Linked DNA regions of Homo sapiens: all the other regions are linked to region 1. Evidence: fine-mapped expression QTL. A gene starts in region 1. Each other region holds a variant in brackets. All regions are shown on one strand. Distances are between the middles of the regions.

Region 1 (4,404 bases):
AGCTGGGCATGGTGGCACATGCCTGTAATCCCAGCTGCTCAGGAGGCTGAGGCAGGAGAATTGCTTGAACCCGGGAGGCAGAGGTTGCAGTGAGCCAAGATCGCGCCACTGCACTCCAGCCTGGGCGACACAGTGAGACTCCATCTCCAAAAAATAAATAAATAAATAAATAAATAAAAGGAAAAGAAAATAGTGTATAGGTAAAATATTTATCTTAAGTCCAGGACTCCTAATTTATGGGTTATTATTCCAATTTAGGCATCGATAGGAGGCTATGAGTATACACTACTCTTTCAAGAAAATGGTGAAAGGGGAAAAGAGCCCTCAGTTTTGTTAAATTTTATAAGAGGCAATTGATTTGGTCTGACCTCCTCCACTAGGCCCCAGCAGGCCAGGCCAAATCAGAACTGAGTTACTTGTGCTAAGTGCCATGTAATCAAACTGAACTTTGAAACAAGCCCATCTTCCAGAAAACGGGAGATTCCAGTCAATCTGAGTAAATATAATAAGGAAGTCTTCTCTGTTTTAACCCTACAAGGAAAGTAACTTTGAAATGATCAATTTGCAGGGCCGGGTGCGGTGGCTCATGGCTGTAATCACAGCACTTTGGGAGGCCCAGGCGGGAAAATCACTTGAGATCAGGAGTTCAAGACTAGTCTGGCCAACATGGCAAAACCCTGTCTCTACTAGAAATACAAAAATTAGCCGGGCATGGTGGTGCACGCCTGTGATCCAGGTACTAGGGAGGCTGACACACAAGAATCACTTTAACTCAGGAGATGGAAGTTGAGATCGCACCAGGACACTCCAGCCTGGACGACAGAGTAAGACTGTCTCAAAAAAAAAAAGAAAAAAAAAAGGACGATCAATTTGCTTTTTGTTCAAATCTCTTTCTGCATTCTTTAGCCCCTTTTCTGCCTATGAAGCTAACCTTGTCTGCTCAGCTCATTGGAACATTCAATCTTATAGAATGAGATGCTGCCTGATTCTAGAATTGTAAACAAAAGCCAATTAGATCTTTAAGCTAAATCTTAATTTTGTAATTTTGTCTTTAGACAGTCTCTTTTTTGTGGTCCTGCAGTTGTGGCAGTTATGTAGTTATCTGCATGCATCAGAATATTACAATATTTTCATCCTCATCTTTAATTTCTACTTTTCATATTTTTAAAATGTAGACATTCAAGTTTATTTATTTATTTATTAAAACCATTTTGTAGGCCGGGCACGGTGGCTCACGCCTGTAATCCCAGCACTTTGGGAGGCCCAGGCAGGCGGATCACGAGGCCAGGAGATCGAGACCATCCTGGCTAACACGGTGAAACCCCGTCTCTACTAAAAATACAAAAAATTAGCCGGGCGTGGTAGCGGGCGCCTGTAGTCCCAGCTACTTGGGAGGCTGAGGCAGGAGAATGGCGTGAACCCGGGAGGCGGAGCTTGCAGTGAGCCGAGATGGCGCCACCGCACTCCAGCCTGGGCAACAGAGCGAGACTCCGTCTCAAAAAAAAAAAAACAAAACCATTTTGTAGAGACAAGGTCTCCACTGTGTTGCCCAGGTGGGTCTTGAACTCCTTGCCTCAAGTAATCCTCCCATCTTGGCCTCCCAAAGCAGTGGGATTACAGGGGCATGCCACCCCACCCTCTCCAAGACATTGAATTTTATTTATTTTTTTTTTTGAGACGGAGTTTCGCTCTCGTTGCCCAGGCTGGAGTGCAATGGCACGATCTTGGCTCACCACAACCTCCACCTTCTGGGTTCAAGCGATTCTCCTGCCTTAGTCTCCCGGGTAGCTGCGATTACAGGCTGCACCACCACACCCAGCTAATTTTGTATTTTTAGTAGAGACAGGGTTTCTCTGTTGGTAAGGCTGGTCTCGAACTCCCGACCTCAGGTGATCCTCCTGCCTCGGCCTACCAAAGTGCTGGGATTACAGGCGTGAGCCACTGAGCCCAGACGAATTTTTTTTTTTAAAAGGCAAGGTCTAGCTCTGTTGCCCAGGCTGGACTGCAGTGGCAAGAACATGGCCAACTGCAGCCTTGACCTCTCAGGCTCAAGCAATTCTCCCACCTCAGCCCCCCAACTACCTGGGCCTACAGACATGTGCCACCATGCCTCGCTAATTAAAAAAAAATTTTTTTTGTAGAGACAGTGTCTCCCTATGTTGCCCAGGCTGGTCTCAAACTCCTGGCCTCAAGTGATCCGTCTCAGCCTCCCAAAGTGCTGGGACTACAGGCGTAAGCCACCGCTCCCGGCCAACATTTAAATTTTTGAATATTTTTTCTGTTCCCTTAGGGTTTACCAAGCACATTTATCGACAAGCCTCCTCAGGAAATTGCCCAAAATAGCCACATGTGGCAAGCCTCATTGACAGGCCAAAAGCCTCAGTCAACATGGCCGCGACCGGCTTCCATTGCCCTTCACTGCCCGCAGTAAGGATGGCTCCGGTGACTTCCTTCGAACCTCACATTTCCCATAAAAAAGATGGCGCCATTGCTTCCGCGTTCCGGTTGCGGATGGTGAGTGTGTCGGGGGGCTTGGCGGCTTTTCTCCTCAGTTTTCTGGAGTGCTTTGGAGGAGAGGTAAGCGCGGGATGGGATGGGGGGGGGTTGGAGTGGTGGGGGCGGGGGTCACAGCAATGCATCTGATCGTTCTCTCTCAATTAGGAAGTTATGGAGGCTTTCCTAGGCATGTCAGGATTTCCTGCTAGCTCCCCGCCCCTTCCGCCCCAACACACGGTGTCTGCAGCCTGTGCTTTGGGGAATTTTGGGAATTTGTGGATAGTGAGTATGGATAAGCTTCGGTTTTGTTGTTTTTTTTTAAATTTTTTCAGTGACCTGCCACTTCAGGAGGTTCTGCTAAAAAACCAACAAACAAAAAAACAGCTTTCTTGGGAAATTTCTATTCACCTACTAAGTAAAATTTGCCCATTTAAAGCGTAAAAAAAAATCAAGCCTAGCATAGTGGCATTCGCCTGTAGTTCCAGCTGCTCAGGAGACTGAGGTGGGAGAATCGCTTGTGCCCCGGAGTTCCAGGCTGCAGTGAGCCCAGATCGCGCCACTGCACTCCAGCCTGGAAGACAGAGCAAGACAACGTACCCAAAAATAAATAATAAAGGGTAACATTAAGGGTTTTTTTGTTGTTGTTGACAGAATTGTGCATCTATTACTGTGATCTCATTTTAGAATACTTTCATCACTCCAAAGAAAAATCCTGCCTCCAGTAGCAGTCATTCTACATTCACCACGTCCACTCCGCCTCAAGTCCTAGACAATTGCTAGTATACTTTCTGTCTGTATAGCCTTGCCAATTCGCACGTTTGATATAAATGAAATCATACAGTGCAGCTGGCTTCTTTCATTAAGTATAATGTCAATGTTTTTGTGACTAGCTTCTTTCATGACTTTTGTTCTTTTTTTAAACGGAGTCTCATGACTCTCACTCTGTAGCCCAGGCTGGAGTATAGTGGCACGATCTTGGCTCACTGCAACCTCTGCTGCCCAGGTTCAAGCTAGTCTCCTGCCTGAGCCTCCCGAGTAGCTGGGACTACAGGCGCCTGCCACCACGTTCGACTAATTTTTGTATTTTTAGTAGAGACGAGGTTTCACCATCTTGGCCAGGCTGGTCTTGAACTCCTCAGCTCTTGATCAACCTGCCTCAGCCTCTCAAAGTGCTGAGATTACAGGTGTGAGCCACCACGCCCGGCTATCTTCTTATACTATGTATAATATTTTCAAAGCTTGTCTTTGTATCATGTGTCAGACTGTTAGCAAATAAATAAAACTCTGTAAACTATTTTAAAGCGGTTTATTCTGAGCCAGTATGATTGACCATCGCCCAGAGAGAAAACACAAACCCAAAAAGTCTTTAGTAAGTGATCCCGAGGCAGTTGGGTTATAGTTTGTTTTTTTTACATTTTAGGGAGACAGGAGTTAACAGGCAAAGACATAAATCAATACATGGAAGGTATACATTGGTTAGACCCAAAAAGGTGGATATGTCCAAGGGTGGTCTTAGAAGTCTTAGGTGGATTTTAGGGATTCTTTAGCTGACAGTTGCTTGAGAGAGTTAAGCTTTGTCTAAAGACTTGAAGTCAGTAGAAAAGAATGCTTGAACTAAGATAAGGGAGTTGTGTGGTTCAAGGTCCTTGTTACGTAGATGAAGTGTGAGTAGCAGCCTCAGAGAATAGATGGGCTAGGTGCCATGACTAGAGATGGGCTGGGCTCCATGGCTCACACCTGTAATCTCAACGCTTTGTGAGGCCGTGGCAGGCAGATCACTTGAGGTCAGGAGTTCAAGACCAGCCTGGCCAACATGATGAAACACCATCTCTACGAAAAATAAAAAAATTAGCCAGGCACGGTGGCGTGCGCCTGTAATCCCAGCTACTTGGAAGGCTGAGACACAAG
Region 2 (4,000 bases), 63 kb after region 1:
CTTCTGGCAGTAGAATGGTAGACAAAAAAAAATGTGTTTTCAAGCTGGAGACCTGAGGCTGGGCATGGTGGCTCACGCCTGTAAAACCAGTGCTTTGGGAGACCAAGGAGGGAGGATTGCTTGAGCCCAGGAGTTCAAGACCAGCCTGGGGAACATAGTGAGACTGTGTCTCTACAAAAAAATTTAAAAATTAGCCAGGTGTGGTGGTGCACACCTTTGGTCCCAACTATTTGGGAGACTGAGGTGGGAGGAGCACTTGAGCCCAGGAGGTCGAGGCTGCAGTGAGCCATGACCATGCCACTGCACTCCAGCCTGGGCAACAATGTGAAACTGTGTCTCTGAAAAAAAAAAAAATGAATTTGAACACCTGCACTAAACCCCATCTCCACCACTGCCGGCTGTATAACCCAAGGCGAGTTACTTTCTCTTAAGCCTTAATTTTCTCATCTGTAAAATGGGGATTACTAATACTTAGTTCATAGGATTGCTATGAAGGGTAAGTGGGATAATATGTATCTGTAAGTCCTAGTCTAGGAACTTCTTTTTCTTTTTCTTTTTTTTTTCTTTTTTTTTCTTTTTTTTTTTGAGGACCCGACCTTTTATTTTGCCAAGCAAAAATCTTAAAAACAACCTATACCAATATCTCCACAAATCTATTAGCATTTCATAAAAGAAAGGATATTTTAACATTCAAAATGAAAGAAGGACCTAATCCCAAAATAAAGATCAGTTTTCTGTAGTCCCTAGTGTTTTTTTCTCACGTATCCATGGACTAGTAAGGGTTTCATCATGGCCTAGCATGAGTCCATAGGCCACTGCTTGGAAAACTTCTATGTATCCAGTATACAATGCACTGATTACTGTGCTCAGTGCTTAACAGGCAACTGGAAGATGGTAAGAACTATTATTAATAACAGACACTTAGAGGTTTTGATATATGTAACTTTAGAGTCCTTCTTTCCATTTCTAAAAATTCCGACAATTTTTGAACAAGTGAACGAGTGGCCTCTTGTAAGACAACAGAGCCAGAAGTCCTCAGGAGCTCAGTACAATTGTGTCTTTGCTTTATAAAATAAATCATCATGAATGAGAAGTAGCTTTGCCATGTGTATTACTTTCACCAGGTATTATGCCTCACTAAATGCAGAGTTCTTTTCTGTTTCTCCGTATTATGTTAGATTGTTTACCTGAACCCTGATGGCTAGCTTCTTTACAGGGTTGTGAATGTTGTCCCTTCAGTCATTAGCGAAATGCTTATTGTGTATCTACTATGCTGCAGACCCTGTTCCTAGGGTCGGGGATACACAGTGAACAAAATAGACAAAGGCTCTCCCTCTCTTTAAGGGGCTTTTTATTTTTATTTTTATTTTTTTATTGAGACGGGGTCTCACTCTGTCACCCAGGCTGGAGTGCAGTGATATAATCGTGGCTTACCACAGCCTCAACCTCCCAGGCTCAGGTGACACTCCTACCTCAGCCTCCTAAGTACCTGGGACCACAGGTGTGTGCCACCATGCCTGGCTATTTTTTTCTATTTTTAGTAGAGGTGGGGTTTCACCATGTTGCCCCGGCTGCTCT[A/C]GAACTTCTGGGCTCAAGTGATCCACTCGCCTCGACCTCCCAAAGTGCTGGGATTACAGGCGTGAGTCACCATGCCTGGTCTTTAAAGGGCTTTTTAAATTCTAGTTCTTTGGCTGGGTGCTGTGGCTCACGTCTGTAATCCCAGCATTTTGGGAGGCCGAGGCAGGCGGATCACCTGAGCTAAGGAGTTCAAAACCAGCCTGACCAACGTGGTGAAACCCTGTCTCTACTAAAAATACAAAAAAAATAGCGAGGCGTGGTGGCACGTGCCTGTAGTCCCAGCTACTTGGGAGGCTGAGGCAGGAGAATTGTTTGAACCCAGGAGGTGGAGGTGCAGTGAGCCGAGATTGTGCCACTGCACTCCAGCTTGGGTGACAGAGCAAGACTATGTCTCTAAATAAATAAATAATTCTAGTTCTTAGGATCATGGTTGGAAGGGGCAGAAGGGGTATATAGACACTAAAAGAAATCTGTAACAGCTGCTGCTGTGAAGAAAGGAAAGCAGTGTTAGAGATGAAGGGTGTGATTAAAATATGATGGCCTGGATAGGTTTCTCTGATAAGGCAATGTGTGTGTAGAGTCTGGAAGAATTTTGGTATTAAAGGAGTAAATTAATACATTTTTGTTTTGCTTGTAAACTTAATTCTCTGATGAAGTGCCTCTTCTATTACCTTTCTGTGGAAGAGGAGAAAATGCAAATATTGGAAAAGAGCAAGAGAAATAGTAACATACTTATGGCACTATTTCCTCCATTTATAGAGCAAAAATGAAACAAACAAAAAACTGAATTAAGTGGCTTTTAAACTAAGACACAAGCCTGCTTTTCTCAAACACCTTTTTCCTTTTCTTTCTTTTTTTTTTTTTTTTTTTTTTTTTGAGACAGGGTCTCACTCTGTCTCCCACGCTGGAGTGCAGTGGCACAGTCTCAGCTCACTGCAAACGCCGCCTCCCTGGTTCAAGCGATTCTCCTACCTCAGCCTCCAGAGTGGCTGGGACTACAGGCGTGTGCCACCATGCCCGGCTAATTTTTGTATTTTTTTTTGTAGAGATGGGGTTTCTCCATGTTGCCAAGGCTGGTCTTGAACTCCTGAGCTCAAGCGATCCACCCACCTTGGCCTCCCAAAGTGCTGGGATTATAGGCATGAGCCACCGCGCCCGACCCCTCAAAACACCTATTATTACTGCTTTTCCTTTATGGCTGCCTGGGTATCAATCCAAGAAGCATCTTTGAAAGTGTTAAATATTTACTTACACTGGCAAAAGTAAGCTTCATCTGTGAAATTGTCTTATAGGACCCAAGAATCTTAAAGAAAAATATTGACCACTCAGTGGTGGCTTATTTAGGAATATCTGTATATTTTTTGTTAAATGTTCTAGAATTTAAAATTCTTCTGAGCACAGTCCCTATAGAATTGAATTAATTCTTTTACATAATTCCAAAGTTGAAAAAGATGAATGACTTGTCTACTTTCAGCTAGATTTTAACTTTTGAGGTAAAATTGCTAACATCCTTTCAAGTAAGTTCTTTATTTCCAAAATTACTTTTTCTTTTTCTTCTTCTTTTTTTTTTTTTTTTTTTTTTTGAGATAGGGTCTCACTCTGTCACCCAGGCTGCAGTGCAGTGGTGCAATTTCCTCAGCTCACTGCAACCTCTGCCTCCCAGGCTCAAGTGATCCTCTCATCTCAGCCTCCTGAGTAGCTGGTACCACAGGCGCATGCCACCACACCCACTAATTTTTTGTAGAGACGGGTTTCATCATGTTGCCCAGGCTGGTCTCGAATTCCTGGGCTCAAGAGATCTGCCCACCTTGGCCTCCCAAATTGCTGGGATTACAGTCATGAACCACTGCGCCCGGCCCCAAAATTACTTTTTCTAATGACACACAACACCAGAGGATTGGAAGGAAACATCCAGAATTTGCTCCAGTGTTCTTTTTCATCACTTATGTTCCTTGGGGGTTTCTGTGGTTCCAGAAGCCATTCATGCCTGCGAGACAGCGGCCCTGGGGGAGAATTGAGCTTTTTTCTCTCCTGAGCAGATACGCTTGTTGGATTGCATTAAATGAGCCCCTTGAACCACTGTGCTCAGCCTTGTCTGCACATCGGCATCAACTGCAAGTTTTAATGATCTTGATGCCCGGGACTCATCTCCAGAAGCTCTGATTTAATTGGTATATAGGGCAGCCTGGGAATCAGGATTTTGTAAAAGCTCAAGTGCTTCTAATATGCAGCCACGCTGAAAAACCACTGCCTTAGAGCAGTGCTTCTCAAAATGTAATGTGACTATTAACCACCCAGGGATCCTATTAAAATACAGATTCTAATTCAGTAAAGTGTGAGGTGGAGGCCAATGATGTGTAAATAAGACCATAGAGCAGGAGTCAGCAGCCTCTGGCCTGTGGACCAATTCTGACCCTATGCC
Region 3 (4,000 bases), 79 kb after region 1:
TAAATGAATTCTGTGAAAGCCTGGGGAAGAGGGCCTGGCACGCATAGGTTTCACGTAAGTGCTGTGGTCTGTGGCTAGTCTGTCATCGCCCCTCCCTCATATCCCCCCCTTCACCACATCACCACCTACCATCCCCCAGTCCCCTCTTTCTCCCAGACCCTCCCTCTCTGCATTTGCCCCTAATGCCGTCAGTAGCCCCCACTCCCACCCCATTTCCTTGCTGCTTGACTGTATCAGCTCAAGTCCTGGTGGAGAAGAGATGAAACAGTCCAACCAGGTAAAGTGAGGAGAGCTTAATGAAGAGCTTATGTACAAAGGCATGAGTGGGCGTGGCACCCACAGGGAAAGCACAGAGCCTGGGGCCCGCCACCATGAGAGCGTGTGCTCGCAGCAGCTGTGTGGAGGGGCTGTCTTGATGCGAGCTGTGGGCCTGCTGGAGGGATGCCGCCAGCCCAGGAAGGGATCCAAGGATGTAAATAGTCCAACCTTGCCTCCTCCCTCCTTCCACCTCCTGCCAGGCCTCCTCTTGGCTCCCAACCCGAAGCTGGAGGGCAAGGGCAGCCATCAGCCATAGTCCACGTAGTCCGCCTCCCAAGGGCAGAGCAGGGTGGAGACGGGGAGAGCAGATATAGACCAGAGGTCAAGTGGAAGAGCTCTGCACAGTGCCCTATGGCACCCCCAGTCTGCAGCCCCCACCCAGCCTGGAGTCATGGGCCCCCGCAGTCTGGCCCACCTGCCTTCACCCACAGGCCCCCCATCTCTGTCCCCATACCCTCCTCCCCTGCCATTCTGCCAGTCTGCAGCCTGCTCACCAAATACACAATGACCTTTGCACTTCTTTTCAACTTTTCACACCTCTTCCCTTTCCCAGGAGTGCCTTTCCCTCCTAGGCCTGGAGAAATGCTATATAGTCTTAGGATCCAGCCTGAATCCCCTTGCTCTCTGCAGATTTCCCTTGCCTCCAGTTAGCTTCCCTTACGGCTGATTCGACACGTACTTCATTACAGTGCGTACTTCACTAGGGTGCACTTCATGCTGTGGTCTTGCCAGTTATTTGTGGACCACTTCCTCTATAGACCAGATCATTCACTCTTGTGGGTAGAAACTACACCATGGTCATCTCTGCATTCCTTTGTGGTACCTCCAAGTAGTTGAAATAAAAACAAGTGCTCAAAAAATTAGTTGCATTGAAATGACTGATGCAAAGATACGATGAATATCATTTACTTGGTTAAAGGTGGTGTTAGTTATAAAGAGTAGAGTCAGCATATTCAACACTGATTAACTATATTGCATGTTGTATGTAACCAAGTCACTCCCTAACTTGCCTCCCCCCAACATACATCTAGATTTAGTCACTGTCATCTCCTCTGGGGACACCCTTTGTGTCACTTATTAGAATTTATCTGTATAATTATTTATCCTGGGTTCTACCTCCTCTTCTAGATCTTTAACTCCGTAAGGGCAGGGGCCATATCTGTGCTAGTCATCACAGAGTCTCTAGACCTTAGAACAGTGTGATAGGTCTTTCATAGCTGTTTGTTGAATGAATAAATATGTTGGTCATAATACATTATAACATATCGTAACCTTAAAGGCCTGCAGAATGGGGACTCTAGGTGCCATGGAAGGGCCTATGAAGTTCCTTTCCATGCCCCTCAAACCATTTCCTGCTGCTGGAAGGAGTCATTTCTTGATGACTCCATTCCCACATCATTAGAGCAGCCACCCTTTCCACTTGCATGGAAGTAGGTCTTGTACCAAGAAGAACAAATTTCCTTTTCCTTCTGTCACCATAAGGAATATAGTAATATTGGGGGAATTATTCTTTTTCTGCAATTCTTTTGCTTC[G/T]CATTTCACTGTCCTTATTGTGCTGATTTGCAGTTTCTTAAATTGATGGTGCCAAGTAAAATATATTTGATTGTAGTTTGTACCATTTCAAATCGATTTAGTAATTTTGAAGATGTGTAATAGGCATTATCAGGTCTTAAAATTGAAAATTGGCATGATTTTATGTCATTTTATATCATTTCACTAATGTGATAGTCTAGCCAGATTCTATTATTATTGTCATTATTATTATTTTGAGATAGGATCTCTCTTTGTTACCCAGGCTGGAGTACAGTGGTGCAATGTTGGCTCACTGCAGCCTCAACATCCCCAGGCTCAGGTGATTCTCCCACCTCAGCCTCCTGAGTAGCCGAGACTACAGGCATGCACCACCATGCCTGGCTCATTTTTTGAATTATTTTTGTAGAGACAGAGTCTCACTATGTTGCCCAGGCTGGTCTCAACTCCTGGGCTCAATCTATCTGCCCGCCTTGGCCTCCCAAAGTGCTGGGATTACAGGTGTGAGCCATCATGCCCAGCCAGATTTTATTATTAATTAATGAGTTCAGGGAGTTCTTTTTAAAGGTCACAAATGATGTTTAATAACATGAAAAAAGATTATCTTTTGGAAACAGAAAGTAGCAACATAGCCTACAAGCCTTAATTTATTTAAGCCCTACTATTACTCACTAATCTTTTTATTTGAGGTTTAACATTCTGACCAATATGTTCTGGAAAGGAAATTAAACTCAACATTTGAGATAACAGAGCTCTTATGAAGCTTATATACTGGAGATATTGGAAAAAGATACTAATCTCCCTCTCCCCTCAAAAAGCAAGAAAGCAATTAGTCTGGAGGGACTGTCTAAATAGGATTGTCTAAAGGAAAACCTGCAAAAAAATTGGGCAGATGGTCTTTATAAACTTAGAGAAGATTAACTCCGCAGCCATGTTGTAACAGGTTTTTACGGATGCATTTGTTGCAAATTAATTGCCTCTTTTCGGCCTTAATAACCTAAATTTAAGTTTGGGGGTTTGCATAGAAGCAATTCAAAGCTCAATACTGTCATGTTTTTCATTAATTTACCAGTGAGTGGTTGGGTTTGTATGAATAATTTGATTTATTTTGAAGTTAAATGTAATTATAAGTTGTGTTTTGCTAGGCAGCTTGTCCTTTATAATAGAATTTGCCTTGAACTACAATATAATTTATTCTACCCTTCTTGGTTAACAGCCTCTTCTTTAGGAAAAAAAAACACAGGCAATATCTGTGAAGATAATATTTTTAAGGTAGATGCAATAGAATGGTTTGGGAGTCTTTCAGTCTTGGGTGATAGAAGATCAGATTTGGTACAGATCTGGTATAGAACCCCATCATTAGGACTAAAAGCAGGCAAAAGCAGAACTGGGCCCTCAGTTCTCAGATAAGCTGTTATACCTATTTGCAGTTTCTTCAAAAGTGAGCATACATAGACAGTTCTACTCCCAGGTAAGTACCTAAGAGAAATGCATCCGTATGTTCATGGAGAGACATGCACTGAAATAGTCACAGCAACACTCATAACGGCCCTAACTAGAAACTCTATACATGCCCTTTATCAGATAAATAAATGGTAGTGTGTTCACATCACGGAATACTATTCATCATTGAAAATGAACAAACTGCCACTGTATGCATATAAGGTTGAGTGAAAGAAGCCAGATAGCAAAGAGTACATACTGCATGATTCCATTTATATAAAGTATAAAAGACAAAGCAATGTGGCCAGATGCGGTGGCTCACGCCTGTACTCCCAGCACTTTGGGAGGCTGAGGTGGGCAGATCACCTAAGGTCGGGAGTTCTAGACCAGCCTGACCAACATGGACCAACATGACCAACCCTGTCTCTACTAAAAATACAAAATTAGCCAGGCGTAGTGGCACATGCCTGTAATCTCAGCTACTCAGGAGGCTGAGGCAGGAGAATTGCTTGAACCCAGGAGGCAGAGGTTGCAGTGAGCCGAGATTGCGCCATTGCACTCCAGCCTGGGCAACAAGAGTGAAACTCCGTCTTAAAAAAAAAAAAAAAAAAGCAATGTAGGTGTTAGAATGGTGGTAAGTCTTAGAAGGTAATAGTTGAAAGGAGGCAAAAGGAGGTCTTCTGGGGTTCTGGTGCTGTTCTGTTTCTTG
Region 4 (4,404 bases), 63 kb before region 1:
TTGCCTTAAATTCATTGGCCAGCATTAGTCACATCATTCACTTAACAATGAGCCTGGAAGGCTCATGAGGGCTCAGGAAGTATAATCCTATCATTTACCTGGAAAGGGGAGAACTGAAAGAAAGAGAAGTACCAGAATATTTGGGTACTACACACATATTTACCTTCTTAGTTTCCTGATCCTTAAGGGAACTGGGAATTCTGAGTGGACAGTGAGGAAGTGCAGGAAAAAGTGGGAAAGGACAGGCTACTTGGAGCCTTCACCTGAGCCAAGCTTGCTGAAAATGGGTGAAATCTGTGGTGCCTCAACTCTGCCTGGTCTGAATGCTCTGCCGAGCCTGGCTCCTCTGACTTACTTGTTCTGTGATCTAAGCCTCAATTTCTTCAACTTTAAAATGAAGATGATAGTAGAACCTACCTCAGAGGAGGTGTGATGATTGCATAAGGTAATACATGTGAGTGACTTGGAACAGCACTGTAAAACTTTCTGCAATGACGGAAATCTTCTACGCTGTCTGATACAGTAGCCACTGGCTACTGAGTGCTTGGAGTGTAGCTAGTGCAACCAAGAAACTGAATTATTAATTCTGTCACCCAGGCTGGAGTGCAGTGACATGACCTTGGCTCACTGCAACCTCCGCCTCCCAGGTTCGAGGGATTCTCCTGCCTCAGCCTCCGGAGTAGCTGGGATTACAGATGCCCACCACCAGGCCCGGCTACTTTTTGTATTTTTAGTAGAGACAGGGTTTTCACCATGTTGTCCAGGCTGGTCTCGAAATTCCTGACCACAGGTGATCCGCCCACCTCGGCCTCCCAAAGTGCTGGGATTACAGGTGTTAGCCACCGTGCCCAGGCTAAATGATTAATTTTATCTAATTTTAATTAATTTAAATTTACATGTACATTGCCACATGTGGCTATAGCTATTGCATGAGACAGTGCAGACTTAAGACTTTGGCCTGGCACCGTGGCTCACACCTGTAATTCCAGCACTTCGGGAGGCAAAGACAGGAGGATCACTTGCGCCTGGGAGTTCAAGACCAGCCTAGGCAACCTAGTGAGATCCTGTCTCCATAAGAAATTGAATTAGTTGAGCACGGTGATGCACATCTGTAGTCCCGGCTACTCTGAAGGCCAAGGTGAGAGGATCACTTGAGCCCAGGAGGTCAAGGCTGCAGTGAGCCGTGATCGCACCACTGCACCCCGGCCTGGGTGGCAGAATGAGAACCTGTCTCTCAACAAAACGAAACAAACATTGCTTAACACATAGGGAGCATTCAACAAGGGTTAGCTAAGTGTCAAATTGCTACAGCCAGAGTGGCAGAAGAAGACTCAACCCAGAAGTCGAAGAAAATGAGAAAACGTCTAGATTTGAAGGAATGACCTCCCACAGAGCATTGCCCCCCTTCACTTTACCTTCAGGTAACGGCTTCGAAGAGAAGATCTGCAACCATCTAAAGGAAACGTTGGGGATGTTTTGTTCCTCTTAGTCACCTTTGCTTGGGTAGGAAGTCACTCCTCACATAGAAAGACTTGGCCATGGGCAGCAGCGCAGGTGGGAGGCATATGGGTGCGCACTCACCTCACCTTCCAGTTCAGCACAGGCTCCCTTTACACCCTAGCTGCCCCGTGTCCTCATGCTGAGCCCACGGCAGATCTTTGTCCTGTCCAGGACTTCATCCTCCTTGCCTCTAGATCTCCAGTGTCAAGTTAGCATCTGCATCAGTTTCCCAGGGCTGCCATAACAAAGTGTCACAATCTGAGTGGCTTCTCTGACAGTTCTGGAGACCAGAAGTCAAGGTGTAGGCAGGACCGTGTGCTCTGAATGTTCTAGGGGGAGAATCTATTCCATGCCTTTTTCTTAGCTTCTGGGCATTCCTGGGTTCTTGCGTGTATTGCTCCAATCTCTATTCCTGTCATCACAACAGGGCACTCTCTTTGAGTGTCTGTGTTTCCTTTTGTGTCTGTGTCTTGTGTTACTTCTCTCTCTCTCTCTTTTTTTTTTTTTTTTTTTTTTGAGACAGGGTCTTACTCTGTCACCCAGGCTGGAGTAGTACAGTGGCGTGAACTTGGCTCACTGCAACCTCTGCCTCCTGGGCTCAAGCGATCCTCCCACCTCAGCCTCCTGAGTAGCTGGGACTACGGGTGCATGCCACCACACCTGGCTAATTTTTGTATTCTTGGTAGAGATGGGGTTTCACCATGTTGCCCAGGCTGGTCTTGAACTCCTGAGCTCAAGTGATCCACCCACCTTGGCCTCCCAAAGTGCTGGAATTACAGGCATGAGCCACTGCACCTGGCCTCTTCCCCTCTTACAAAGACACCAGTCATATTGGATTAGGGCCCATTTAATCCAGTATGACCTCATCTTAACCTGATTGCATCTGCAGGGACCCTATTTCCAAATAAGATCACATTCACAGGTCCCAGGGGTTGGGACCTTAACATATCTGCTTGAGGGACGCAGTTTAGCCCACAACAGTTACCATTCCGTCGTGGGCTTATTTTCTGCTGGGTGGCAGCTACTTTATCTGTCACAGTTTTGAGGAGGACACTTGTCATTCTGTGTGCCTGGTATCCTTCTCCTGAGAATAACTGAGCTGCTGCTAACATGAAGATGGTTTAGGGCAAAAATTTTAAAAAGGCACTCCCTTTGGGTAGACAAATTGCAAAATTCGTGCCCACTCCATGTGATGAATTACAGACAGTTTGCACCTTCCCCTTCCTGCT[C/T]ATGCAAGGAAGTGTTGCGCCCTTCCTCTTTCCCTTTGTGTCTGCTTGGAATTGGGTCTGATTGGAATTGGGTTTCGTCACTTGCAACCAAAGAATCCTGACTGACATAGATGGTACTTGGCGCCATGAATTAATGTGTTGCCTCTCATAACTAATTTCCTGGAGGTAATCCATTCACTTGAATGAAGATTGGAGCACTGTGACCAGCAGTGCAACTTTATGGCTTTGGCTGTTAGGGATCTCCATGCCCCCTAGGTCCAGTTTAGGCTGCTCCCTGTTAGACCTGTAGCAGGTGCTCTTCTTGCCCACCATGTCCCCTCACTCTGACCTCTCCATCGGGCGGGGCCCTACTCATGGCCCCTTGGAAGTAGGGGCCCTTATTTCCTCACAAGAGGAAGCCAGCTGCTCAAGGGCTTCCTCTTGCTGCCAGAGCCCACTTTACCCCCAACGTGGCAGGCCAGAGTGTCCAGGACTTGGCCCCACACCGGAAGCAGCCCTTGCTGCCTGACTGATGGGGGGTGGTATGTTCAACACTCCAGCCGCCTTTCCCGGCAGAGGCAGCGTGCAGAGGTGTGTTCCACACTGGCTCCCAGAGGTGCCCTGAGGACAAATGCAGCTCAGCTCCCTTTCTCCCCAGTCCCTTAATTAGCTACTCTCTGTCTCAGTCTCCGCCCTCCCCACCGCTCTGCCCCCGCTCCCTTTTCCCGTCCTCCCCACGGGTGTTTCCTGGAGTCACCTCCCACATAAGCTACTTGCACAAGAGTCCTTGTCTCAGAGTCAGCTTCTAGGGGTTTCCACCTTAACATAAGACCTATGCCCAGGGTCATCACATGAAGACCTGAGTCAGCCACTTACTGGCCAGATGGCCACGGGTTACCCACTCTGGGCCACGGGTTACCCACTCTGGGTCACAGGTTACCCACTCTGGCCCTCAGTTTCTGTCTGGAAAGAGGTAGCCAGTCACACTAAAGGGGGACTTCTTTTTGGGTAGGCTATTAGAGAGGCTGATTCGATCATTGATTTTTTTTTTTTAAACAAAGCTTATGTTTTTCCTCCGAGTATAAAAGTAAAACATGACGGTTATGTAATTTTGAAAAACAGAAAAATAAATTTAGGCCTGGCACGGTGGCTTACTCCTGTAATCTCAGCACTTTGGGAGGCCGAGGTGGGCAGATCACTTGAGGCCAGGAGTTCAAGACCAGCCTGGCCAACATAGAGAAACCTTGTCTCTATTAAAAATACAAAAAATTAGCCTAGCGTCGTGGGGCGCACCTGTAATCCCAGCTACTCGAGGGGCTGAGGCATGAGAATCACTTGAACCTGGGAGGCAGAGGTTGCCGTGAGCTGAGATTGCACCACTGCACTCCAACCTGGGAGACAGAGAAAATCTGTCTCAACAAAAAAAAAAGAAAAATCAATTTAAAAAGTTAAAATTACCCAAATTCCACCACTCAAGGATATTTTCTTTGAAAGTAGAGGGCACAGGGTGGCCTTGAACCCTAACGTACCCTGCTTTGGGTCTGGCTATGCTGCAGGACTACGGCCCTAAGATTTCTGCAAATGTCCAGTTGCTGTGTGTAGACGCAGCTTGAAATAAACTGCTTGTACAGCATGAGGAGGAAATGTGACTGTCGGACCCTTATGTAACAGAGTAGGAAACCCTGAGTGTAAACAG
Region 5 (4,404 bases), 81 kb before region 1:
CTTCTCGGCCTCCCAAAGTGCTGGGATTACAGACTTGAGCCACCGCGCCCGGCCACCACAACCAATTTTCAACATGCTGCTGGGTGTGAGATAATCAGAAAAGCATGGAGCATAGGTAGACATTTAATGGTCTTTTGAGTCCAACCTCTACATTTTACTGATAATTAATTTGGAGAATCCATTGTCCTTCCAAGATTGATTACCCATTTCTCATTTTGAGGAACGTTTAACAGCAAGAAGATTGGATCAGGTTTCTGAGTGAGCCCCAAGAACTTTGTCTCTGAGAGCTTTCAAGGTTTGAGTGACTCCTTTGCATTTTGAGTACATATTCCAAGGGCATTTTCCTTTGGCTGTTTGTGATCAGAGATTATTGTGGTCATGATGTGCCTGCACATTATTGCTGCAATAGCAAACCACTCATCTTATTTGCTGGTGTCTCTGTGGGTCAGTCTTTGGGTTGGACTCAGCTGGGCAGTTCTTCTGACGCTCTCACCTGGGGTCATAGTGGTAGGGAGAGTAACAATCCTCCTGAAGATGTCAATTCCCTAATCCTTGGTTTTAGACCTGCGCAAGCTACATTACCTAGTAAAGGGGACTTTGCAAATGCAATTAAATTTATGGACTTTTGGGTTAGGAAATTATCCTGGACTGTCTGGACAGGTCTAACGTAGTTACATGGGCCCTTAAAAGTAGAAAAGAAACTTTGGGAGGCTGAGATGGGCAGATCGCTTGAGCCCAAGAGTTCAGGACCAGCCTGGGCACCATGGCAAAATCCTGACTCTAGGGGAGGTTCAAAGCATGAAAGGGACTTGCCTACCATTGTTGGCTTTGAATTAGAGGAAGGGGGCCATAAGCCAAGGGACAGCCTCTAGAAGCAGGGAACAGCCCTCACTCACAGCCAGCAAGGGGACCTCAGTTCTACAGCCGAAAGGGACTGAATTCTGCCAATAGCCTGAATGAGTAAAGAAACAGCTTCTCCTCATAGAGCCTCCAGAAAGGAGCGCTGGTATCTCACTGTGGTTTCAATTTGCATTTCCCTGGTGATTAGTGATGTTGAGCGTCTTTTCATGTGCTTGTTGGCCATTCGTATGTCTTCTTTGGAGAAATGTTTATTTGCCCATGTTTACTGGGGTTGTTTGTTTTGTTGTAGGAATCCTTCATATGGCTTGCATATCAACCCTTTATTATATATATAATTTCAAATATTTTCTCCCATTCTGTAGGCTACCTCTTCAGTCTTTTGATAGTGTCTTTTGAGGCACAGAAATTTCAAATTTTGGTGTAACCTAATTTATCTATTTTTACTTTTGTTGCCTGTACTTTTGGCATGATATCTAAGAAATTATTGTGAAATCCAATGTTATGAAGCTTTCTCCCTAAATTTTCTTCCAAGAGTTTTATAGTTGGGAGAGTTTTAAGCAGTGAAGTGCTATATGGGAGGCTGGACAGGGCAGGGATGTGGGAAGCTGATTGTGTTGAAAGTCCCAGTCTTCATCCCTCCCCTCATCTACATGCTTTGCTGTCACATTGCAGCTCCACCCAACAAGAGGCAACATGCACTTTCCTACCACTTGACTTTATTTCAGCCATGTACTTGGTAAAGACTTTCTACTCTGACTCTGGGCTTGACCATATGACTTGCTTTGGCCCATATAATGAGACAGAAGTGATGGCACAGCAGTTCCAAGCCAAGGCTTCAAGGAGCCTTGCAGGTTTCCACTTGCTATCTTGTGCTTCTGCCATCGTCCCGAGAACCTGCCCAGGCGAGCCCGCTGGAGGATGAGAAACACACAGAGCAGAGCTGAATAGCCTCAGTCAACTCAACCAGCTGATCCCCAGACATGGGCGTGAGCCATCAGCTGGTCCCCAGTTAACCCCAGAGGCATTAGTATTGCAGGCCACTGAGGTTTTGTGGCTGTTTCTTATGAAATGTACTCCATAATATCCAATAAGGATATTCAGTAAGGATGATATGGCATTGGATAACTGATACAGCGAGCAGATTGGAAGCAGAGAGATGTGTTGGGAGGATATTACAATAATTCAGGTGAGAGATGATAGCTGTGAAGGTGATGACAAGAGGTTGGATTCTGGATGTATCTTGAAGGTGGTGCTGATGGATTTGCTCTCACATTGGAAATAGGGTATGGGGAAGAGAGACCAGCTGAGGATCACTCCATGGGTTTTGAGCATCTGGAAGGATGAAATTGCCACTAGCTGTGGTAGGATGACTGCAGGAGGAGCAGGTTTGGGGAGGCTATCAGGGACTCAGTTTTGAATATTCACACATTCAGGGATTTTGGGAGAGTTGACACATATCCCTGGACTTTGGGAGTGCTCATAAAGCCAGAGGCTGGCAGTGCTTCTTGAATGAAAAACTGTGAAAAGGGGAGGCCTGATGAAGCAGCCTGTTGTGGATAAGCATGCCCCACAAGGAAAGGATGAGGGCTTTCCCTTTGCCTGAGGGCAGGAAGAGT[G/A]CATCAAGGGTCCCACGCCTCCTTATGAAGGAGCATAAAGTGGAGTGGTGGGTGGATACCTAGGGCTGCCCAGGTGGTGTCCAGCAAAGAGAAGCTTCCCCCGGAGAAAGGCTAGAGTACAGAGGCTGGTAGAGGCTGAGGGGAGACCTGACTGCCTTTGCCTGAGGGATGACCTCAGGAGTAGAAAGGGCTCACATGAAGTCATGTGGCATTCCGAAAGAATGGCACTCACCATCTCAGCGGAGCCCACCGCCTCTATGGGGGCCTCCAGCTGCAGAGCCCAGCCTGAGAGAATCCTCCTAGGAGGGCAGTCAAGGAGGAGGTCAGAGCCTCTTCTCCTCATGAATGCCAACGGTGGAGAACTAGGCTGGAAAGGGCACCTGGGCGAGGTGGGGAACAGGGAGAATCCTGGAACATAGATTTCCAGCTCTCGGAGAGGAAGAGTCTAACTTTTTTTTTTGAGACAGAGTCTCGCCCTGTCACCCAGGCTGGAGGGCAGGGGTTGCAGTTAGCCAAGATCACACCACTGCACTCTAGCCTGAGTGACAGAGTGAGACTCGGTCTCAATAAACAAAAAAACAAGAAGAAGTTGGTGTGAATTTGAGAGCTGTATTGTTAAGGCTCCAGTAGCATCTATTGTAGATATCACTGAGGGATGGGAAGGGGGATTCAAAGAGCATGGTAGAAAATGCAATTAGAGAAAATAGAATTTTCTTTTTTTCCACACGCACTAGATTGAATGAAAATAGTTTTCAAAACCCCTCTGCCTTGCACTCCCTAATGAACGGATGATACACATGAATTAAACTGTGGGTGGCTTAATAGCTGGAGAGAGGCCACAAGTATAGGCAGAAATGAACACACATGTGTTGCAACAGAAGCACTCAAGACGCAACAGTGAAATTCACTAGCAGAAAATCGAGGTGAGAAGAAATCGAAAATTGTTCTTTTAAACCTACCGCTTTTGCTGACTGTCATTAAAAATGTGAAAACAGGTGGTAATGGAACCATAAGTGATTAGTTTTCTTTCCTTCTGCATGATTATAATGATGTTTGAGAGTGAAACAATGCTCCTAAAATTTATTACTTTTTTGTCCACTAAAAAAAATGCCCCCATCTTTAACTTTAGTGGCACAAATCATCTATTTTTCTAACAACCTCAGAAACTCAGTATGATGTCCCCTTTGAAAATAATGGAAAGTTGCCGGGCGCGGTGGCTCATGCCTGTAATCCCAGCACTTTGGGAGGCCGAGGCGGGTGGATCACGAGGTCAGGAGATCGAGACCATCCTGGCTAACACAGTGAAACCCCGTCTCTACTAAAAATACAAAAAAATTAGCCAGGCGTGGTGGCAGGCACCTGTAGTCCCAGCTGCTTGGGAGGCTGAGGCAGGAGAATGGCATGAACCCAGAAGGTGGAGCTTGCAGTGAGCCGAGATCGCGCCACCGCACTCCAGCCTGGGCAACCGAGCGAGACTCCATCTCAAAAAAAAAAAAAAAAAGAAAAAGAAAATAATGGAAAGTTTGTGCTCAGCTCCTTCAGTGTCTGCAGCAAGACAGCAAATGAGACCCATGAGAATCTGGGGCTCAGGCAAAAGTTCCAGAAGAAGTTTAAATGCTGAGGTGGGGCCTGTGAAGGAGGGAGGGAGCGCTGGAGACCAGGGGCCTTGGCGATCTGTTTACAACACAAGGGTGACCAGAGCTGTCTGTCTGTAGAGGGCCCTGATGGGAGCAGAGGCATCCAGACAAACAGGGCTCATGCTCTTCTGGGAATCCCTGCCTCACCATGAAACAGAAGAGAGAGATTCCACCAACTGCTTGGATATGTCCCCTTTACATTTCTCCAGCCCAGATGGTGGTGGTGGTGGTGGTGTTGTTTTGAGAAAAAGTCTTGCTCTGTCACCCAGGCTGGAGTGCAGTGGTGCGAT
Region 6 (4,000 bases), 110 kb after region 1:
CCATACATAGGTCCTCTTAATCAGCAATTGCTAGTAAAAGAAACTCTGGACAATCAAGCAGGGTGGGTGGGTGGCTATTGATTCAGATGCATGCAGAAGGCAGAATTCTAAATATCAAATCTATTTAGTAGAAACTTGTTACAGTTGAAGGCAAAAATGTTTCACGGAGATGAAACCCTGCTGTGCATTTATGAACCACAGAAATAGCCATGGAAAGTTCTCTGGAAGAATCCCTCATTAGATATCTGGGTTTCTAAAGGCTAATGGCATCTCTTGCAGAACACAACTATTAATCTCAAGTGCTCCATGCCAGTTGACTGTCTTCTGAATTCAAATAAGCACCTACAACTCCTAAATATATAAAAATATTTTTAGGTGTATAACAATCTCAAGTATCAGGCTGAGCGTGGTGGCTCATGCCTATAATCCTAGCACTTTGGAAGGCCAAGGTGAGCAAATCACTTGAGGCCAGGAGTTCGAGACCAGCCTGGCCAACATGGCAAAACCCCATCTCTACCAAAAATACAAAAAATTAGCCAGGCATGGTGGCACACACCTGTGGTCCCAGCTACTCGGGTGGCTGAGGTGAGAGGATCATTTGAGCCCAGGAGGTGGAGGCTGCAGTGAGTTGAGATCATGCCACTGCACTCCAGCTTGGGTGACAGAGTAAGACTTCACCTCAAAAGGAATCTGAAGTATCTATATGTTATCTCTTTTCTTGTTGGCAAAGAGAAAATTTAACAATTGGATGCATGCAAAAGCATTGTGATATCAAGCCCTGCCCTCCTCCTTTTCTTCTTGTAAATTTCTAAAGAAATCCTATTCATGATGGAAAATATATAAAAAGGCAAGTTCCATTCAATTTAAATAATACCAGAATCACTGGGACCAGGGCCAATGGTTTTCCCCCTCAACCATTGTTGTGGGGTAAAAAAGCCATCTCATGGTCTGAGAAGGGAAAATGTGTAACTCGAATAGGTACCAGCAAGAAGGGTGCTGTGCAGGGAATGGGGACCAACAGCAAAAGTCTCTTAGGGAGCTCAAGGCAAATCAACATATTACAGTGCAGCGGGAGTCAACATTGAGTTCCCACTCCTTTCAAGATCCATCCTTTGACCCAGGGGAGGGGTGAGGGGCAGGGGGACATTATTGGTATTTGGGAGATGGACCATTCTTTGTTTGTCCTGTGCACTGTAGAATGTTTACATCCTTGACCCCACTCACTAAATGCAAGTAGCACTTTGCAATCCCTGACACAAAAACATCCCTAGACTCTCCCTGAAGACGTTGCTATCCCCCTTTGACAGCTCTACAAGGTTGGAATATACCAACAGAGAGAATAAGGTGGGGTTTGAACGTAACTGGGAGGATGCATCACTGAGCACGAACTGACTAGTACCATCATTCTTTCCACACATGGACACATCAGGAAAGGAAAAGCAATTAGCTACATTTGCTGGCAAAGAAATGGTGACATCCAAAAGCTACAACAGCCTTATGATTAGAGAGGAGGCTTTATAGTTGGTAGTAAAGCAAATTTTAAAAGGAAATCAAAAACTGAAATGGACTGCAGGCAGCATTCAAAATAACTGACATAGTAAATGACTCAACCCGTATGTCATTGGTCTTCTGAAGGGGAAGGGTTGTTTCTCTGAAGACGACTGGCAGACTGCCTGACATGTGCATGAAAAGTATAGGAGACAGCTAGCTTTTAGCCTCTTTTGTGGACACTGGATTTCAAAATTTTTAAATTAAATGAAACACAGATGAAAATTTTAAATCCTGCATATCAAAGCACATTGACAATTTACTTACCAAGTACGTGCCATGTTGCTTGGCGTTTTCTATTGTACGTGGACAGTTTTGAGGGTTCAACTTTCCCAGTGTTGTTGGTGGGCATCCCCCGCTCTCTCCCACCCACCCCATTGGCCCTTCCCAGCTTCTGTCTTCCAGCCACCACCTCCCAACCCCTACCCAGGACAAGGTCATCTGCGGGTAAGAAGGTAGGAAGGGACCCTTCATCCTGCCATCACGGGACCCCATTCCCTCTCCTTCTCCCTTCAGCTTTCTAACAGCAGCATCATTTGTTAGGCAATTACCCAAGCTAAGGCTTCTTATTTGGTTGCTTGATATTAAAGTAGGCCAGCAAAGGAAGTTTTTACATCTATCCCCCCAGAGGTTTGTTTTAATTTTTTTACAACAATTTTTTAAAACAAAGAGCCCTTTTT[T/C]ATGAATTATTTGAGATTTGCTCACAAAAAATCAGGCCACCAATCCTGATTTTTCTACAAACAAGGACATTCTCTTCTAAAACAATAAAATCATCAAAATCAAGAAATTAACAGTGATGCATTACTACCATCTAATCCTCAGACCCCATTCACAGCTCTCCAGTTGCCCCAGTAATGTGCTTTACAATGAAAAGATGAAGTTTAAAAAAAGTTTTTTTTTGCATTTGGCTGTCATGGCTGTTTTAGCCTCCTTCATTCTGGGACAGTAGCTCAGTCCTTCCTTGGTTTTCACAAACCTGGCACTTCTGAAGAGTACAGGCCAAGAACTCCTCTCCTGCTGCTTCTATGCCATCAGAACAAGAAAGAGACCAGCATCTGTCTCCCTCCCCTTCCACCCATCCTGGAGGCTTCAGTCCAGTGATAGTGTTCTTGGGAAGAACTTGGGTAAAAGCTCTGGGCATAGCAAGGTCAAGGAAAGTTTCTTTACTATTCTTTAAAAAAAAAAAAAAAAAAAAAAAAAAAAAAAAAAAGACGGGCCTGGGACATAGCTTTAAGCTTTCTGGAAACTAGTGTAGTGGAAATACCATCCCTGCTATCGAATTTTTTACAAAGCGTGTTCTCTGTTTTGGGTGCCCCCTGGCCATTCTGAGTTCTCTCTCTCCTTGAGCCTCCAGGCTGGGTCTCAGGCTGCTGAAGAAAGGCCAGTTGGCAGAGGAGGAGAACTGGAACCAGCCAAGGAGACATTTAGTTTCTATTTCTTCTTGCCACTGGCCTTTTGTTCATCAACTCTGCTTCTCCATTGCGTGGTCCTTTCAGAATAAGATTGCAGGTCACCTCCTCTGAAGAGGGAGCATGCACTCATTCTGCTACCCTGGCACTGCATGTTTCCACAGAGTCCACAGTGTCCCAGTTAATGTCACTACATCATTTCATATCTATGTACATCCTGTGACTATATTTCAGTTGTTTAATGTCTGTAACGATGTCTCTTCTTCCTACTTAGATTCCAAGTACCTCAGATGAGGGACATGATCTTCAGCATCCATCTGTCTATCTTCAACAACTTGTAATGAGTTGCCTTAATATCAGCTTTCTATAAATAAGTGTTGAATGGATGAATGCTTGTCCATGTGTAGGCCTGCGTGTGACTCAAAGAACACATGTCCATATTCTTTTAGAATGTGCTGATAACTTCCGGATAATCTATTTCTCTGATCTTTACATTACCATAGACATTCTAGAAGAGAGATTGTTTAGTAAAACCCTCATTTTAAAGTTGAGAAAGTTGAAGCCCAGAAAGGTTGTATGACTTGTCCAAGATGTCATTTCCAGCTAGTAGCAAAACTAGGGCCCAAACCAAAATCCTACCTCCTTTCCTAAAGCTCCACCCACTGTACCATGCACCTTACTTCAGCATTGGCAAGTACAGATATGTTTATTGTAGCTACTGATTGAGTTCGTAGGGGCAGGGAAATGTCAAAGCTAGTGATTTATAAAAGCTTATATCAGGGTCAGGCGTGGAGGTCCAAGAGCAGGGTGCCTGCCTGGTCAGCTTCTGGTGAGGGCTCCTTTCCTGGCTTGTAGACAGCCGCCTTCTCACTGTGTGCTCACATGGCTTTTCCTTAGTGCTTGCAAAGAGAAAGAAAAAAGAGATCTCCTTTTCTCTTCCTCCTCTTATAAGGATCCTTTCAGATTAGGATTCTACCTATAGACCTCATTTAACTTTAATTACCTCCTAAAAAGCCCTCTCTCCAAATATAGTCATGTTGGGG
Region 7 (4,000 bases), 71 kb after region 1:
GCCTTTGTAATTGCTTCACTTTCATCACATATAAGAAGTACTCAATGAATGCTTACTGATTTCATGCACTGTAGGAACAACACCGACTATTGTCATGTTGGCTGTTGTCATATTAAAACATCATGTAGGCCAGTCATGGTGGTTCACATCTGTAATCCCAGCACTTTGGGAGGCTGAGACAGGAGGATCCTTTGAGGTCAGGAGTTCGAGACCAGCCTGGGCAACACAGCAAGACCCTGTTTCTACAAAAAATAAAAAAATTAGCCAGGCATGGTGGAGTACACCTTTAGTCCTAGCTACTTGGGAGGTTGAGGCAGGAGGATGGCTTGAGCCCAGGAAGCCAGGGCTGCAGTGAGCCATGATGGTGCAACTGCACTCCAGCCTGAATGACAGCGTGAGACCCAGTCTCTTAAAAACAACAACAATAAAATCATCATGTAACTTGCTAAGACAGCCACACCTTTGTGTTGTGCCTAAAAAATTACTGAGTTCTGGTGGATACATAATGAGGACTTGACAGTGTTTTTTTTTTGTTTTTTGTTTTGTTTTTAGAAGGAGTCTTGCTCTGTCGCCCAGACAGGCTGGAGTGCAGTGCTGTGATCTCAGCTCACTGCAACCTCCATCTCCTGGGTTCAAGTGATTATCCCGCCTCAGCCTCCCCAGTAGCTGGGATTACAGGCGTGTGCCACCATGCCTGGCTGATTTTTCTATTTTTAGTAGAGACAAGGTTTCACCATGTTGGTTGTCCAGGCTTGTCTCCTGACCTCAGGTGATCCGCCCACCTCGGCCTCCCAAAGTGCTGGGATTATAGGCGTGAGCCACCATGCCCAGCCAGTCTTATTAAATGCTTCAAATATATGTCACATTCAGCTTCATGTCCCTGATGGTTCCCTGCACCATGCTACGCCAATAAACACTCAACGGATACTCAACGGATACAAAAGAGTATTTGGTAGATCTTCAGAGACGGAAAGCAAATTCAGTGCCTTTATTCAGCAAAAATTCAATGAGCAGCTGCTATGTGCTGGACACTGTGCTAGCCCCTGGGGATGAAGTGTGAATTAAAGGCAGTGTCTGCCCTCTTGAAGTTCACCACCCAGTGATAGAACACCCAAGAAACCAGCCTCCAAGATGTTCAGATTAAAAGAAATTCTTCCACAGTGACATTTTCACCAGGCAAACTCAGAGTTGTTTGACATGAGAAGGTTTAAAAAAGGATAGTTGTGAAAGACCAGGCAAAGTTCACAAAGTGAAGAAGGGAAAATATTATTTCAGACTGATATTAAATGATGGCCTAGCCTGCTGCCATACTGTCTCACAGGGAAAAGTTTTATTTATGTCTCCTTTGATCTTTTCTCCTTTTTGTCTCTAGGTTTGATGTACAAGCTTTAGCTTGGGCCTTTGATTTACAGTGTTCTGGAGAAAGAGACCAGGGATGACAAAGCCAACCAGGCTGTTACCTAAAAACCTGATATATTGTCCTAGATCTAGGCTGTCTTAGAGCTACACAAAGAATTTCCAGCAGACTGCTCAGGAAGAGCCTGCTGGGAAGGCAGTTCCCCTAAAGTCCCATAAAATAAAGAGCTTCCCAGTCCTTCTTTGATATCCACGGTTTGCTTAAGTATTGGATGTTAAGGCAGCAACTTCTAGT[C/A]CTGTGGAAAATCTTTTAATATCTGTGCTTAATCAACTGAGAAAATAAAAATTTATAGATCCATCAATGACAAATATATTAAACATGGGGCTTTAAAAATTGCCTGGAAGTCTGTGACCAACATTTTTTTAGCCTGTAAAATATAGTTTGTTTAAACTTATTAAGGCTGGGCGTGGTGGTGGCTCACGCCTATAATCCCAGCACTTTGGGAGGCTGAGGTGGGCGGATCACCTGAGGTCAGGAGTTCGAGACCAGACTGGCCAACATGGTGAAACCCCGTTTCTACTAAAAATACAAAAATCAGCCGGGCGTGGTGGTGTGCACCTATAATCCCAGCTGCTCAGGAGGTTGAGGCACGAGAATCGCTTGAACCAGGAGGCGGAGGTTGCAGTGAGCTGAGATCACACCACTGCACTCCAGCCTGGGTGACAGAGCATGACTCTATCTCAAAACAAAACAAAACAAAACAAAAAAACTTGATTATAGTATACTGGATATTGAGGGATAGGGAATTTAGTTATCAGCTGGGAGTAATAACAAATTTCTGGAAAACTCAAACATCGATCATATCAGAGTTTCTGAGGATCAGAAATCCAGGAGGGGCTTAATAGGGTAGTTCTGGCTCAGGGTCTGTCATGAGGTGGCCGCCAAGTGAAACCTTCCCTGGAGCTGGAAGAGCTGCTTCAGAGAAGACTGCCACCGGATGCTTGGCTGGAGTTTTCAGTTTTTCTCCACATGGGCCTCTCCCAGGGCTGCTGAGTGTCCTTGAACTGTGGCAGTCAGCTTCCCCACAGTGAGTCGTGAGAGAGGGAGACAGCCAAACAGAAGCCCTGGAGTCTTTCATGATCTCATCTCAGACATGATGGGCCATCTCCTCTGCTGCACTCGACAGTCATACAGACCAACCCTGGGACCACATGCAAGGGGACCACCTGAGGGTGTGAGTGCTAGGAGGTGAGGAGCCATCCTGGATGCTGGCTACCTCATAGGTGACTGGCCAGGCAAAGTTTATTAACTAAAAGTTCTTTGTGTTGACTCAGGTGAACTAACATTTACTGCTTCAGTTGTTCATTTAATTTAATTTTCTTGAGAGATTTAAAGTAAGTGCTCAAAGCCAGGCATGGTGGCTCATGCCTGTAATCCCAGCACTTTGGGAGCCCAAGGCGGGCAGATCACCTGAGGTCAGGAGTTTGACACCAGCCCAGCCAACACGATGAAACCCCATCTCTACTAAAAATACAGAAAATTAGCCGGGCGTGGTGACGGGTGCCTGTAGTGCCAGCTACTTGGGAGGCTGAGGCAGGAGAATCACTTGAACCTGGGAGGCAGAGGCTGCAGTGAACCAAGATCGCACCACTGCACTCCAGCCTGGGCTACAGAGTGAGACTCTATCTCAAAAAAATTAATTAATTAAAAATAAATAAATGAATAAAGTGAGTGCTCAGAGCTGTGTTGCTTTGTTGTGTGCATGTGTGTGAGTGTGTGTGCTTGTGTCCCTAAGTCCCAGCAGTGAGACAAATTGTGTGGTTCCTTATCGTACCTGAGAAGCAGGGAGCAGCCACCAAGAAGACTGTTACAGTGGGTGAGTTGTTTATGCCCTGCTTAAGGCCAGCCCCTCCACTTAATCTTCATCTCCTCTCTCCTAGTCATGGACTTCACACCCACCGTTAACCCCTCACTCCTGCATTATCAATCTTTCTCTCTTGACTGGCTCATTCTTGGCTACATACAAAGATGATGTAATATTTCCCATCTAAAAAAAAAAATCCATGACCCCAGGTTCCTCTTTAGGTCCTGCCCTGTTTCTCTGTTCCTTTTTATAGCAGAAGGCTATGAAAGATGTGTCTTATTTGTCTATACTCACTCTCTCCACCTCTTACCTTCCCGATTTCTCTCCAACCCACTCCAGTCACACTTTTGCCTTCCCTCCCCCACCCCGCCCCCACCCCCATATATACTCCACCACTGCTATTGTTATGGAACTGTGGTGTCTTTTGTCCTTCCAAATCCAGTGGTCGGTTCCCAGTCCTTTGTATTTGACCAAGCAGCAGCGTTTTACACTGTTGATCCCCCCCTTCCCGGATACCTGTTCTTCCCTTGGCTCCTGGGACCCCTCCCTCAGCTTCTCCTCCTGCCCTCACTGGCTGCTGTTTCTCATCCTCCTCTGCTGGCTCTTCAAGGCACTTCTTACTGACCTCAGGCCTCAGGCCTCTTCCCTCCACCCCTCTGCCTTCAGTCCCTTTTGTATTTTTTTGTAGAGACAGGATTTTGGCATGTTGGCCAGATTGGTCTCAAACTCCTGACCTCAAGTGATCCACCTGACTCGGCTTCCCAAAGGCATGAGTCATA

Which allele goes with the higher level. Positions count from the first base shown, and alleles are read on the strand shown. Sizes are in standard deviations (SD) of each study's normalised expression. Not every link is listed here.
For the expression in CD8 T cells of the gene that starts at base 2,499 in region 1, G is the low allele of the variant in region 3 and T is the other (small effect, 0.36 SD a copy in CEDAR).

What was found. PIP is the estimated chance that this variant, and not a neighbour inherited with it, causes the effect.
Region 2: its variant is the best candidate, but not a certain one, in a credible set for the expression of SHLD1 in lung (TOPMed, PIP 0.56).
Region 3: its variant is the best candidate, but not a certain one, in a credible set for the expression of SHLD1 in CD8 T cells (CEDAR, PIP 0.89).
Region 4: its variant is the best candidate, but not a certain one, in a credible set for the expression of SHLD1 in whole blood (TOPMed, PIP 0.84).
Region 5: its variant is the best candidate, but not a certain one, in a credible set for the expression of SHLD1 in whole blood (TOPMed, PIP 0.77).
Region 6: its variant is the best candidate, but not a certain one, in a credible set for the expression of SHLD1 in blood mononuclear cells (TOPMed, PIP 0.83).
Region 7: its variant is the best candidate, but not a certain one, in a credible set for the expression of SHLD1 in whole blood (INTERVAL, PIP 0.53).

What each region holds. Positions count from the first base shown.
Region 1 is chr20:5,747,903-5,752,306 of GRCh38, forward strand. SHLD1 (shieldin complex subunit 1) reads left to right here and starts at 2,499. Exons shown (of 3, transcript NM_152504.4): 1 at 2,499-2,577. RefSeq lists an enhancer at 2,325-2,374.
Region 2 is chr20:5,811,517-5,815,516 of GRCh38, forward strand. All of the region lies in intron 2 of SHLD1 (shieldin complex subunit 1), which reads left to right. Among named protein-coding and RNA genes, the nearest start is that of SHLD1, 63 kb to the left of the region's middle. The variant A/C (reference allele first, on the strand shown) is at 1,579.
Region 3 is chr20:5,826,805-5,830,804 of GRCh38, forward strand. All of the region lies in intron 2 of SHLD1 (shieldin complex subunit 1), which reads left to right. Among named protein-coding and RNA genes, the nearest start is that of SHLD1, 78 kb to the left of the region's middle. RefSeq lists an enhancer at 49-550. The variant G/T (reference allele first, on the strand shown) is at 1,852.
Region 4 is chr20:5,685,339-5,689,742 of GRCh38, forward strand. No RefSeq gene overlaps it. Among named protein-coding and RNA genes, the nearest start is that of SHLD1, 63 kb to the right of the region's middle. RefSeq lists an enhancer at 2,766-3,266. The variant C/T (reference allele first, on the strand shown) is at 2,730.
Region 5 is chr20:5,666,895-5,671,298 of GRCh38, forward strand. No RefSeq gene overlaps it. Among named protein-coding and RNA genes, the nearest start is that of GPCPD1, 58 kb to the left of the region's middle. The variant G/A (reference allele first, on the strand shown) is at 2,478.
Region 6 is chr20:5,858,154-5,862,153 of GRCh38, forward strand. The region is part of intron 2 of SHLD1 (shieldin complex subunit 1); the gene reads left to right. Among named protein-coding and RNA genes, the nearest start is that of CHGB, 51 kb to the right of the region's middle. The variant T/C (reference allele first, on the strand shown) is at 2,229.
Region 7 is chr20:5,819,413-5,823,412 of GRCh38, forward strand. The region is part of intron 2 of SHLD1 (shieldin complex subunit 1); the gene reads left to right. Among named protein-coding and RNA genes, the nearest start is that of SHLD1, 71 kb to the left of the region's middle. RefSeq lists an enhancer at 3,416-3,555. The variant C/A (reference allele first, on the strand shown) is at 1,652.